Linked DNA regions of Homo sapiens: regions 1 and 3 are each reported to be linked to region 2. The links are microRNA targets in miRTarBase. Many come from high-throughput screens and were not tested one by one. Region 2 holds a microRNA gene; each other region holds the end of a gene's coding sequence.
Evidence for each region. The annotated mature microRNA hsa-miR-3126-3p reads CAUCUGGCAUCCGUCACACAGA and lies in region 2 at 3,264-3,285, shown strand. An mRNA with a match to its seed (bases 2 to 7 or 8) in the 3' UTR can be bound and repressed. Matches are read on the target gene's strand: a 7mer-m8 pairs with bases 2 to 8, a 7mer-A1 pairs with bases 2 to 7 and ends in A, and an 8mer does both.

Region 1 (4,289 bases), not on the chromosome of region 2:
AAGAAGTGAACTTGGAGCAGGTCCACCGGCGCATGAACAGCCTCATGGATGAAGACATTGCTCACAAGCAGATTTCCCCAGCGTCGATTGAGCTCTCGGCCCTGGAGATGGGGGGCCTGGCTCCCACCCAGACCTTGGAGCCGACACGGGAGTACCAGAACACCCAGCTCTCGGTCAGCACCTTTCTGCCAGAGCAGAGCAGCCATGGCACCAGCCGGACACTCTCATCAGGGCCCAGCAGCAACCTGCCGCTGCCGCTGAGCAGCTCGGCGACCATGCCCTCCATGCAGTGCAAACACAGGTCACCCAACGGGGGGCTGTTCCGGCAGAGCCCGGTGAAGACCCCCATCCCCATGTCCTTCCAGCCCGTGCCTGGAGGCGTCCTTCCAGAGGCTCTGGACACCTCCCACGGGACCTCCATCTGACTGCGCCGCCTGCCCTCCTGCCCACCCTCCCACCCACCCGACCAGCAGAGCTTTTTAATACAAGAAAACAACAACACAAACCACACACACTCGCACACACACACATACACAGAGACTCTTTCATTTTTCTTGTACATATGTGTAAATAATGACAGAATGGAGTGGGGTAAAAGTGTATTTTGAATATTCCCAATTTTCGAAGTCAGTAAAAAAACACAAAAACTGTATGAATGACTTTGTAAATTTTGTTCTATATGAATAAAAAGGCAAATTACTTGTGATCATTCTGAAGTGCCAAAGGAGCCCCCCCATTCCTGGGCCTTTCTGAGGGCAGGAGGGGCGACCAGATAAGGAGCCCCTCTCTGCTGGGGGAGAAGGGAAGACGAGGAACCCCACATGCCACTCGCTGCCTTGTCCCACAGCTTGCTGCCCCATTTCTTTGCTCCTGGCACCTCGTCCCTTTTAGTCCCTCAGCTTGATAAAGAGTGAGTTTGGAGCCCGCATTGGGCTGGCCCACTGGGTTGCTGTGCTGTAGGGTGATCGGCTGTTCTGGGTAGCCTGGGGCTGAGGAGGTGCCCTGGACTCAGGGCTATCCTGTCCTGTCTTGGATCTTGCGGGACGAGTTAGTCACCGCTGTGTGTGTTGCAGTGTGCCTCTGCCCCATGGGCCCGAGAGAAGCTGACAATTACCCATAGTGAGGTAATTGAGGGCTTTGATACTGAGCTGTTCTCATATCATACTGTTGGCCTTGTTTTTCATTTTCTTTTCAAAATTAGAAGAATCAAAAAGTGATAGAATATTGGGGGAAGGAGGGCAGACTCCATCGTTTCCTCAGGGAGACTGGGCGGAGGTGGGGTTGGTCTGGAAGAAGGTCCATGGGGGCAGGGAGTTGCGAGGTGGGGTTAGTTGCATGGACCAGGTGAGGTGGTGGAACAAAAGGCCAGGTAGAGGAAGAATATTCCCTTGGGTTTGGACCCATGGTCCCAGGTGAGAGAAGGAAGTGAGGCCATAGATGCAGGGAGTAGAAGCTTTGTGGTGTCAGGCAAACGGACTCTGTTAGTAAGAGTTGGGGGAGGTGCCCAGGTGGGTGGACCAGTACTCCAGGTGATGGGGCATGCTGAGAAATAGAGAAAAGAGACCATGTTTATTTGGGTAGGAGGAAGCCTTGCCTTGCGCCTTAGGTGAGAAGCATAAGTGTAACTCCCATCCACCAGGGAAGTTGCTTGTAGCCCCAAAAGTAAAGGCCTATCTCTGGGTCATAAATCCTGCAGGCAGTCCAACAAACAGGGCTGGCTCCAGCACAAACTCTCCCTTCCACCTTTACGACCCTCTCCAGACCAGACCTGGAGTCCTCTTCAAGCAGCAATCCAACCCAGAGCAGGGGCCCTCCCCACTCAGGCATCTGATAACCTCTGAGATTTCCAGGCCTATCCCTGTGCAGGTACAGCTGCAGGGAAGCCCAGTTTTCTAAGCCTAGGACCACCTAACAGCGCCCCCTCCTTCAGTTGCCCTTTCTGAGGCAACTAAACTACAGAATCAGGGAAAGAACCATTAGGAGTGGAACTGGGGGAATCTGAGTTGTGTCACTTCAGTTCCTCTCCTAAAGACAAAGGTTAGTCTGATCTCCAGACCCGTCAGAATGGAATACACAGCCCACATCTGTCACTGAAGGAGGTGGAGCTCCCACAGCCAGCAGTAATCAGGGAGCTGAGAGCCTGGTTCTGTGATCATGGAGAAATACAAAGTCCTATTGATTGCTTCTTCTATAGCCTTGTAGAGTTTCTAGAGAGATGTATTTATGAGGGTGATAACTAGCCCAGGATTGATTTCTTTCCTAAAGTCCCTAGTGACATGATTGAGCAGTAAAGAACGGCCAAATCACACAGTCAGCTAAAAGCACTGTGGGGAAGAGAGTGTTTATAATTATGTTATTTATTGCTGGATGCTGAGAATGGTCTGATATTCGTGCTACCTAGGCAATCCATTGACATTTCTCCAATCAGAGCATGTGGACCTTGGAGCCAGGCATGCTCAGAGAAGCCTAGGTGGGCTACCATGACCCCGAGGAAGAGCAGGCTTTGTTTTCCATCAGCACGTTGGGGGCCCTGCCCTGAATGGTCAATTTTTCACATATATATCTCTCTATTTTTTTAATCAAACTCTGGTCTCACTGCCTTATCTCACACCAACTCTGTTTCCTCATTGCCCCCTGAGATGGCCTGTCTTCTGGGGTATAGCTTGGATGTCTTCTTGGATGGTTCTGCTTAGAATGAGTGTCAAGGAGGAAAGAGAGGGAGATGGAGGATGTGTTTGTGCGCCTGTGTGTGTGTGTTTGTGTGTGTGTGTGTGTGTGAGAGAGAGAGAGAGAGAGAGAGAGACCAGCATCTTCAAGAGAAGTATTCTGCTTATACAAAATCCTTAACACCTCATGGTGTTATTCTTCACCATGTTTATATATATATATATATATTTTTTTTTTTTTTTAGAATTTTCTACCCTTGGCATGAGGGGAAATGATTGATATTCAAGCAAGTTCTCTAGGAAAAAAAAAAACTTCCCAACTCAGATTTCTGTGTCAGCTCAGAATGTATCTTTTTTTCATGCTTTGCTCTTTGGATTTATAACTCTGTTTAGACTATTCCATACATTTTAGGTATATTTTGTGCCTTCAGACACTGCAAATAATAATCAGCATTTGGATTAAAGTTGTTTAATAATAAATCTTGTCTTTGCTCCCTATGCTCTTATTCTCTGGGGTGAAGAAATACTGTCTGCTTGTTTCTGGGCATGCTGAGATCATGAAGTAAATTCTGTGCTATCAGCAGGGACAGTCATGAGGAAAACTCCTCTCCTCAAGGGGGTCTCAGATATGCCTGGAGGTGGGGGCAGGCCCTCCTCACCCAGTGCATATCCAGAGTTCCCTGAAACCAACCAGGGGACAGTGTGAGGGACAGGCTGAGGAGCAAGTCTAATTTTTGGTTAACCTAACAGTGTTCTTTAAAATATTACGTTCTTGGAAGTGTCTTAGGAGAGAACTGGGTCATCATCATGCGTAGAGAAGTGCTCCCATGGCCTGGAGGAATGAACACCCCTTTAATTGTCAGCTGACTGTGCTGCCACTCTCATCTCTGCACTCACCCTGACCTCAGATAAGTTGCTTCCCTGTGCTTAGGTCTCAGAGCTAAGGGACTGTCATTCCTGGTGGAGCACAGCTTGGCTGGACCCCCAGCTTGGCTTCTCAAAATTTGGCCCTTACAGGATCTGTGGAGACCTTTCTCCAATGAACATCTTATGCCCTCAGTCATCCTACAGGCCTCAAGCCATCAACCTGATCTTCCACCCCCAGATGTGTGTGCTTTTCAGCCGACCTCTGAAAAAGTCCCCTGGCTTCAGTGACTTTGTGGGGGACAGCCCCGCTGTCGGCCTCAAGCTCAGTAAAGCTGATCTGAGGAGGCTGTCTGACATGATCAAAATTTCTTCTTCTAGAAACCAAAAGGAGGATGCCCAGCCCTAGTTCTTCTGCCCTGCACCAAGGACAGGCTTCTCCACGTTGGGGCCACTCCTCAGACTGGGGCTGAGGGGCGGGCAACAGACACCGCTGGATTCTGTGAGCAGATGGGTGGACAGGAGCAGCTGCAGGGAACCACAAAGGGCTGTTTTCTTAAGAAGAAGCTGCCTAGTTCCTAAATCAGAAATCCCCCGAATAGTGCCAAGGTAAAACTAATTCCATACCTAATGTTTGTCTTTTCAAGTTCTAAAGGAGAAGCAGACACATTAAAGAAGAAAAGACCAGTGGTCCTAAAGGCCACGAGGACATGGAGGGACGCAGTCTATGGCCTGTGCGTTTTCATTTAAAAGTCATTC
Region 2 (4,617 bases):
CTGCTGTCTTTCTTCCTAAACTCCCTGAGGTGGGGCCAAGCAGACATGCAGGCAGCCTCTTTTATAGAGGATTTAGCAACTCAACTGGTAATGTTAGAACATGGTGTTAGAGAATAGAGTTTGGCATGTGGCCTGCATTTCCACAGTCTTCTCTTCCTCTGCTGATCTTTGAGGAAACAAGAGAAGTAGGCACAGAAGTGAGGCAGAAAACATTTGGAATCAGCAAAAACATCAAACAACAGATGTCTGTATGTCTGGCATTCAAAATGGACACAGAAATAGGTTTCTATAGGCTTAACTGAGCAAATAAGAGAAGATAAGATTCTTCTACAAGTGCTTGACACGTACTAAATTGCTTATTGAGCCAACCAAGGAATCTGTCAGATGCCTGACAGACATCTAGAGAAAACTACTAAGCCCATCTTTCTAAACGTAGCAATTGTGCATTTGCATCAACGTGTATGTATAAATCCTTCATAGTCATAGGACTTATGCTCCTGAAAAAACCATAGGCCCGTCACCTTAGCTTTTGGATATGAGTCCCAGTTTTTCTGCTTTACTAATGACATGACTCTGAGCAAGTCATTCAAAATGTCACAGTCTCCATTTCCTTATTGTGAAGGCCTCTTATACTTCTAAAAAGCATTCTTTTCTAACTTATACTCCTTGTGGCACATGTAGTGTCTCTGTATTCTTTTACTTAAATTTCAGTTTCTTGCTTCACATCCAGGCCTGTTCCACTTTTCTGCAAAATGAGCAAACCTGCCTAAAATTAAAATAAAATAAGCTTTAAAAAAAATCACAACTTCAACTCCTAAATGACTCATCTGTCAGAAGGCAGTGAGTCCCCCTTTTCGCATGGTGGTTCAGAAGCTAATGGCTGAGTTCTAAGGGCATGGCATTTGGTGCCTAACAGACCTCGATTCCAGTTCTGATTCTGACAAGTTACCAGCTGTGTGATCTTGGACACATTACTTAACTTCACTAAGATCAGTTGTCTCATCTGTACCTCCCCAGGCTGTGGTGAGGTTTAAATGACATCAGACATGTACAATATTTCACAGAGGGCCTGGCTCACATTGAGGGAGCAATTAGCATTAGTTATTATTGTCTTGGCAAACATGGCCTCTAAATTAGTTTCCTGGGACTGAAGGTGGCATATACTCATGACATTTATTAAGCTTCGAGAGTCCCATATACTAATTCTCTAATTTCATTATTCCTCCAACAACAAGTCTACATTTAGATGGCAATGTACTGTGTAAGATCCATATTCACAAACATTGCATTTTTTCCTCTGACCTTCAGTCTATTTCTCTTGTGATATGCCACATAGCATTATCCCGAGCCCCAATTTTTAGATACAAAAGGATGATAAAAGTGAAATAAAGTGGAACACTGACCATTAGATACCAACAAACTTAAGCAAATATTCCCAAACATTTAGCCAACTAATTATTGGGTTTTTTCCATGGTAGGAGTATGGTAAAGGAGAGTTGTTTTTACTTAATAACGATTTTATTCATGTGCATTAATCAAACATACATTATGCCAATGAGAAATTAATATGCAGGCCAGGCAAGATATATGATCTCTTCTATGCAGAGACAAATGAGTACTACACTGAGGGGCTGATATCAATTCAAGTAGGTAGTGCTTGGCAACTGACCACTGCTAAGAAAGACTTTGATTCATTCCTAAGTACAATTATTCCTACCTAGCCTATGTACTGTTACTGTGTGCCCAGTAGAGATAGGAATGCCATAGTGGTATCAAACAACTCCTGACCTAAAGGAATGTTTCTCCAGCTGGGGAAGAAAAGACAAGAGAACACCACCAGACCATACATAATGACAGTCCTACATTGTTCAGGACTAGCTGTGAATGCCCTAAGGCAGTGACTTTCTAAAATGTAGGCACCGTGGGCTCTTAAGAAATCCTTTCAGGGGAGTACAATGTGCAAAACAGACACAGAGGAGGTGAGTTGATTAAAGAGGAAGTGGAGGACCCCTCCCCTGTGGCTCCCTCCGGCTACTGAGATCACAGATTTTCAAACTGCCTGGATTTGAAAACTGGCTAAGATTTGAATGGACAGAGAGGAGGGAGGAAGGTGTTCTGCGTTAGGAGGACCAGTAAGCCCAAAGGTAAAAGGGTGGGAATTCAAATAAGAAGTGATAGGCCCTTCTTGGGACACCTAGTGAGGATGCACTGGTAAGTAGTGAAAGGAACCCACCTGGTTGCTTTTGGTGTTCAACCTAAATTAATTTTTGAATATTTTAAGCCTGGTGAAATAGTGAACAAATGCTCTAAATCAGGGCAGATGCGAAGCTTAAGGTTATTGGCCAAGTAACGAGTCTCGTCATTATTCTTTATTTCAGAGTCATTTCAAGTTGTCGTGAGAGGAAACGGCTTCCGACATGCCCGCAACGTGGACAGGGTCCTCTGCAGCTTCAAGATCAATGACTCGGTCACACTCAGTAAGTCCTTGCAGAGTCCATGGGTTTCTTCGACAAGTGGCTTCAAGGAAGGGAATTCCCACCCTTGTCTTCCAGCAAGGCCACACACATGAAACCAGCAGAAAAGAGTCTTATTTGCTGGAAAGACCCCCAGCAAGGGCATAGTGAGCCCTTACAGTGGTTCCAGTCAGAAAAGGCACCACTTGGGTGGGCACAGCCCCATGGGTGTCCAGCTTGGTAAGCAGAGCAAGGCTGGACTTGAGTCCCCGTCCTCCACAAAACACAGAGCCACAAGCCCCAGCCCTGCAGCAGCCCTCCGGAAGCAGCGGGGCACTGGTTTCCTTGTCCCCTGCCATCTACCGAGTGGCTCACTCTCAGGTGGGAGTGCTGGTGATGGTTAATTAGGACTGCAGAAACATGAGCCTCCTTAACAAAGTATTGGGACTCTTAAGGGTAAGTGTGAAAAAGGAATGGTCTAAATGCATTAATCTTGAATAAACCGAAAACCAAACCATTAGGCTTGCACATGTAGATTCTGCAGCTTTTTTCAATCTGGATGATTCTTGCGTGGAGTAGCCAAGAAACTCTCATCGTGGTGAATATCTTACATGAAATACAGGAATATGGAGTAAAACTAAGTGCATTTCATGAGAAAAAATGAATTATCATAACATTGGCTTCTTCACAAGACATTTGTAGCAGTCAAGTTCCTAATTTAAAGATGTACGTGATTCATGTGGTTGACCAGGAGAGATGGGGAAGATGATTATATGAGGGACAGATGCCAGAAGCACTGGTTATGATTTGCATCTGGCATCCGTCACACAGATAATTATTTATTCCACATCTGCAGTGATAACTGTCATAATATACTGCATTTTCTGTAATGCTATGTACCTTCTAAATGCTTCACATCTTTTTGCTACAACAGCCCTGAGAGGTAAAGAGAGCAAGGAGGACAGGAGGACACACATTTGTTGACTAATCACTCACACTAGTTTTCTCCTCCTGATAGCCTATTTTTTTTTTTTTTTTGGAGACTGAGTTTTGCTTCTGTTGTCCAGGCTGGAGTACAATGGCACGATCTCAGCTCACTGCAACCTCCGCCTCCCAAGTTGAAGCGATTCTCCTGCCTCAGCCTCCTGAGTAGCTAGGATTACAGGTGTGCATCACTACACCCAGCTAATTTTTTGTATTTTTAGTAGAGATGGGTTTCATCATGTTGGCCAGGCTGGTCTCGAACTCCTGACCTCACATGATCCACCCGCCTCGGCTTCCCAAAGTGCTGGGATTACAGGTGTGAGCCACCACACCCAGCTCCTCATAGCCTTTTGAAGGAGGTTATCTTGTTTTTAAAGAAGAAGAATTGAAGGGCTATGGATATTTCCTTCTTGACATCATAAAACCCACTTTAGTAGTTAAACAGACACATGCTGTGTCTTCCTCACAAACATCTGGAATTCCTGGCCTTGGAGTAATTCCAAACATTAGAAACATTCGGTTAGTTTTCTTAATATTTGGAAATGCTCTCACAGATCCAAAAAGTACGTGCTATTTGAAAACATTCTGAAATATCCCTGAGTAGTCACAGTGTGAAAGTTGGACGTGTGCCCCCAGCAGAGTTCTTTCTTTTTTCTCCCTGTCAATTGTGATGTCACTTAAGTCCCCCTTTTCTCTTTAACCAAAATCCCAAGTCTAACATCAGAAACTCCTGAAGGTTTAACTCAAAGACATCAATACCTTCCAAAGAAGACTTCCCAAACAAGCAGGCTTTCAGGCCCAAGCTCTCTGAAGATACATGGAAGTGGGCTGGGGAGAGAGAGAATCTACCCTATGTGCCGTTGCTCAAAGGTTACACAAGATGCTGTATTAAATAAGATGTGGCCAGGCACGGTGGCTCACGCCTGTAATCCCAGCACTTTGGGAGGCTGAGGTGGGTGTATGGCCTGAGCTCAGGAGTTCGAGACCAGCCTGGGCAACATGGTGAAACCTTGTCTCTACCAAAAATACAAAAAATTAACTGGGCGTGGTGGTGCACACCTGTGGTCCCCAGCTACTCTGGAGCCTGAGGCTGAAGGATCACTTGAGGCCAGGAGGCAGAGGTTGCAGTGAACTGAGATCATGCCACTGCACTCCAGCCTGGGTGACAGAGTGAGACCCC
Region 3 (4,289 bases), not on the chromosome of region 2:
AAAATAACTAAAAGAGTGTAATTGGATTGTAACACAAGGGATAAATACTTGAAGGGATGGATACTTCATTCTCTATGATGTGATTATTTCACATTGCATGCCTGTATCAAAACATCTCACGTACCCCACAAATACGTATACCTACTATCACCCACAAAAATAAAAAATAAAAAAAAATTAAAATACAAAAAGAAAATATGAAGGCATGAGGAGACACTGCCTCATTCATTATCTTTGTTGACTTTTACCCACTACAGGAAATACAACCAGAGTTCTAGGCCTCCAGTTCCAGACTATGTTGTTTCTGACAGTGGGGAAACAAAGGAATTTGGGTAAGAGCTCTCTTGCTTAAGTAATAAACATGAGCCCAACACGATGGTTCTTGTGGGCATCTTGAATGTGCTAATTGAAAGTAATATGACAAGTCTGTTATTCTAAACCAGGTTTCATGTGTGTAGAGTTGTTGACGGTTCTGTTATTTTGTCATTATTGCAGGGATGAAAGTAAGCTTCAAGATAAAATCTTCATCACCCAGCAAATTGCAATATCAGACTCTTCTGGTGAAGTGGTGCTACCCACTATTCCAAAAGAACCTCAGGAGTCTGACACAGTAAGGAGTCTGTATCTAATCAAACAATGTATATTGTTGTCACCCTTCCCCATGTCGCTTCTTGCTAAATCACGGTTATTTTCTCTACTAGTTGAGAGACTTCAGGGATCAGTGGAATGAGTAATAAATAGCATTAGTAGATTACATAAATTTTTAAAGCAATATCCGTACAAATGCATATTATACTAATGCAAATGCAAATGTGTGCCTCTTTTTGTGTAGAAACCTATAGGTTGCCTTTTGAAGTAAACAGCCTAGCCAAAATGTGTACTATCTTTTACGTAAGAGTAAACATAGTGACCTTGTGACTCTTAGCTTTCCATCACAGGTGGGAAGTCAGAGTCATTACAACCTAGAGGACAAAGGCTTATAAGGAGATATGAAATGATTTTTTTAAGCCAAGTTTTTCTCTTTAAGAGTTTTTAATTTATAATTTGTTATTCATAATTAGTACAATGTAGAATCTGAGAAATTTCAAATGAAGCCACATTAGAACAAAAAGAAAATACTGACTTTTTAGCCGCGATCACATGAATATAACTGATGAGTTTTTTTCATCTAAGAAATAAGAAACTCTGAGCAGCAAATAGTTGGCCAGATGAGTTGTTTCTAATTAGAGCATCACAGTTCTGATTAGTGTGTTTTTTTAGAAGTGATTTCCCTTAAATATAAGGAAAATGTTAGGAATCTCTGTGACTACATTTAATTCCACTTGGAATATAGACAATAATGACCTTTTATTTAACCCAGCCTATAGTTGTTGGATTGGATTAAATATCACTACCAGGGCCAGGTGCGGTGGTTCACGCCTGTAATCCCAGCACTTTGGGAGGCCGAGGTGGGCGGATCATTAGGTCAGGAGATTGAGACCATCCTGGCTAACATGGTGAAACCCTGTCTCTACTAAAAGTACAAAAAATTATCCGGGTGTGGGGGCATGCACCTGTAATCCCAGCTACTCGGGAGACTGAGGCAGGAGAATTACTTGAACCCAGGAGGTGGAGGTTGCAGTGAGCCGAGATCGTGCCACTGCACTCCACCCTGGGCAACAGAGCGAGACTCCATCTCAAAACAAAACAAAACAACAACAAAAAAAATCACTACCAGTTGCCAGCTGTGATAAGAGCTAAAACAAGGGGTACTGTAGTCTCAAATTATAAATTTCTATTGCCTCATATTTAGGAAAGCAGAAAAAAAAAAAAAAAAGGCCCAGTAGGATCATAAGTGTATTTTACAAAAGTTCCAGTCACCTTAAGTGATTGAAGGTTTTGACATTTTATCCAGCCAGGTGGTAGTAATAAGCCTCAAATCCACAGGGTACACAACATTTTCAAGGTCTTTTTTTTTTTTATCATACTTAATTCATGAATAACCCCCATAGTGTAGGTTAGTTAGCACTATCAAAGTGACTGGTAAGGACGCAGGAAAATAAAAAGAGGATTCAATTGGATTGGTACTGCAAAAAGAATCCATTCTGTTCAGCACATGAATTTCTGTTCTGACCTTAAGTTTAGATATATCAAAGAAACAAAAAGCATAGAGGCGGCTGGGGGTGGTGGCTCACACCTGTAATCCCAGCACTTTGGGAGGCCAAGGCAGGCAGATCACCTGAGGTCGGGAGTTCGAGACCAGCCTGACCAACATGGAGAAACCCTGTCTCTACTAAAAATACAAAATTAGCCAGGCATGGTGGCGTATGCCTGAAATCCCAGCTACTCAGGAGGCTGAGGCAGGAGAATTGCTTGAACCCGGGAGGCAGAGGTTGCAGTGAGCCAAGATCACGCCATTGCACTCTAGCCTGGGCAACAAGAGTGAAACTCCATCTCAAAAAAAAAAAAAAAAAAAAAAGCGTAAAGGCAGTTGAACTAATGGCAGAAGAAGACTGTCAAAGCATTTTTTTTTAACCACTTTATGTCATGGAAAGCTTCGAAATTTCTTAGGCCCAGTTAATTGCTCTACATGAAGAGTTCTTCATTAAACAAATCACTAATTAGAAATACAGGCAAGAGAAAAGAATATATAAAATTTGGCAAGTAATAGCAGGTTAGATTTGCTTAAGGCAGGTGTCTTACCCATTTTCATGGTTGGAACAATCCTTGATTTCTGGGCCTAAAATAACTTTTGAAATAATTTTCTAAGAAAATTATTTGCATCTGGCTGGGTGTGGTGGCTCATGCCTGTAATCCCAGCACTTTGGGAGGCCGAGGCAGGCGGATCACCTGAGGTCAGGAGTTCGAGACCAGCCTGACCAACACGGAGAAACCCCGTCTCTACTAAAAATACAAAATTAGCTGGGTGTGGTGGCGCATGCCTGTAATCCCAGCTACTAGGGGGGCTGAGGCAGGAGAATCGCTTGAACCTGGGAGGCGGAGGTTGCGGTGAGCTGAGATCACGCCATTGCACTCCAGCCTGGGCAACAAGAGTGAAACTCCATCTCAAAAAAAAGAAAAAAGAAAATTATTTGCATCTGAATTAATGGCTGAAGTATTAATTAATGATTGCTGAAGAGAACCCTGAAACTTAGTACTTGGCACATATAACAAAAAGTTGATTTATCCATTGCTTACTGAGGTATCCTTGAGAAGTGATCTTAAGCAGGAGCAGTGACAATGATAGAATTAATAGTGGTCATGAATTACTAGGAAACAAAGTGGCATTGAGCAGAAAAGAAAGAAGCTGTTGCCACAACTTTGGGATATATAAAAATGGATTATATCTTGTGTATTGTGGGATAAAAGAGGGGCTAAAGAAAACTTTGCAGGAGGTCTCTCCCAGTGGCATTTAGGTAGCGCTATGTTTGAGGATCAACCAAAAGCGGTGAGTTATTTCTGTCCTGTTTCCCCATCTAAGAGTTCTTCTTGCAATTATTGGAACATCTTCTTTAAAAAATTTTTTTTCCCTTTTCTTTTTTTACTTTTTCAATTTTTTTAAATAATAGATACGGGGTTTCGCCACGTTCTTCAACTCCTGGGCTCAAGCAATCTGCCCACTGTGGCCTCCCAAAATGATGGAATTACAGGCGTGAGCCACCGCGCCTGGCTGGAACATTTTCTTTACATACACTGGCTTTTCTCCCCTTCAAATCATCAGAAAATGGGATAATTTTTAGAAATCAGGTTTAAGCACTACTTTCAGATAAGCATTTCATAGTTACAACAGTTACCTCAAAATAGAAGTATGAAGAGCAAGTGAGAAATCTGGTTTCATTGTTACACTAGGCAGTTCCCTATAGAAACTTTGCGGGGGTTAATAGTCCTGAGGAAGATTTTAGTTACAATGTATTCCAATCCCATCGATCTGATCTGAGCAAAGCTGACAAATGAAGCTGGTCAAAAATAAAGGGAGATTACTCAGGATGGAGTCAGTCTTAAACAAACTTGTTTCTAACGGCCCATGGTAGGCATGACAACAGCAGGTGAGGAAAGAGTAGCATCTTCTTCTTTCCACTGAGAAGTAATGGTCTTTAACTGAGTGTAGAATTGGATGCCCTAAGGAAAACAGAAAAAAAGTTAGCATATATTTCTGGGGTTTCATGATTCTTCTTTTAATTAGCTTTTGAAGGAGGTATTATAAAGTGCTACTCACTTTCCTAATTGAGAAATGCAATCAGAATCCAATATATATTGTTCCTAAGATAATTGATCTAAAACATTTAACATAATACCTGGCAGATAGTAAA

Region 1: the mRNA of GRID1 is a reported target of hsa-miR-3126-3p. Seed matches in the 3' UTR shown: 7mer-A1 at 769-775.
Region 3: miRTarBase lists ALDH6A1 as a target of hsa-miR-3126-3p. Seed matches in the 3' UTR shown: 7mer-m8 at 2,762-2,768.

What each region holds. Positions count from the first base shown.
Region 1 is chr10:85,598,409-85,602,697 of GRCh38, reverse strand. It overlaps GRID1 (glutamate ionotropic receptor delta type subunit 1), which reads left to right. Exons shown (of 16, transcript NM_017551.3): 16 at 1-3,146. The coding sequence ends at 425. The region is part of intron 2 of GRID1-AS1 (GRID1 antisense RNA 1); the gene reads right to left. Among named protein-coding and RNA genes, the nearest start is that of GRID1-AS1, 23 kb to the right of the region's middle.
Region 2 is chr2:69,100,464-69,105,080 of GRCh38, forward strand. MIR3126 (microRNA 3126) reads left to right here and starts at 3,219; the gene lies at 3,219-3,292. ANTXR1 (ANTXR cell adhesion molecule 1) reads left to right here. Exons shown (of 18, transcript NM_032208.3): 10 at 2,379-2,477.
Region 3 is chr14:74,056,649-74,060,937 of GRCh38, forward strand. It overlaps ALDH6A1 (aldehyde dehydrogenase 6 family member A1), which reads right to left. Exons shown (of 12, transcript NM_005589.4): 12 at 199-4,098. The coding sequence ends at 3,994. It overlaps BBOF1 (basal body orientation factor 1), which reads left to right. Exons shown (of 12, transcript NM_025057.3): 10 at 258-332; 11 at 496-610. Among named protein-coding and RNA genes, the nearest start is that of ALDH6A1, 26 kb to the right of the region's middle.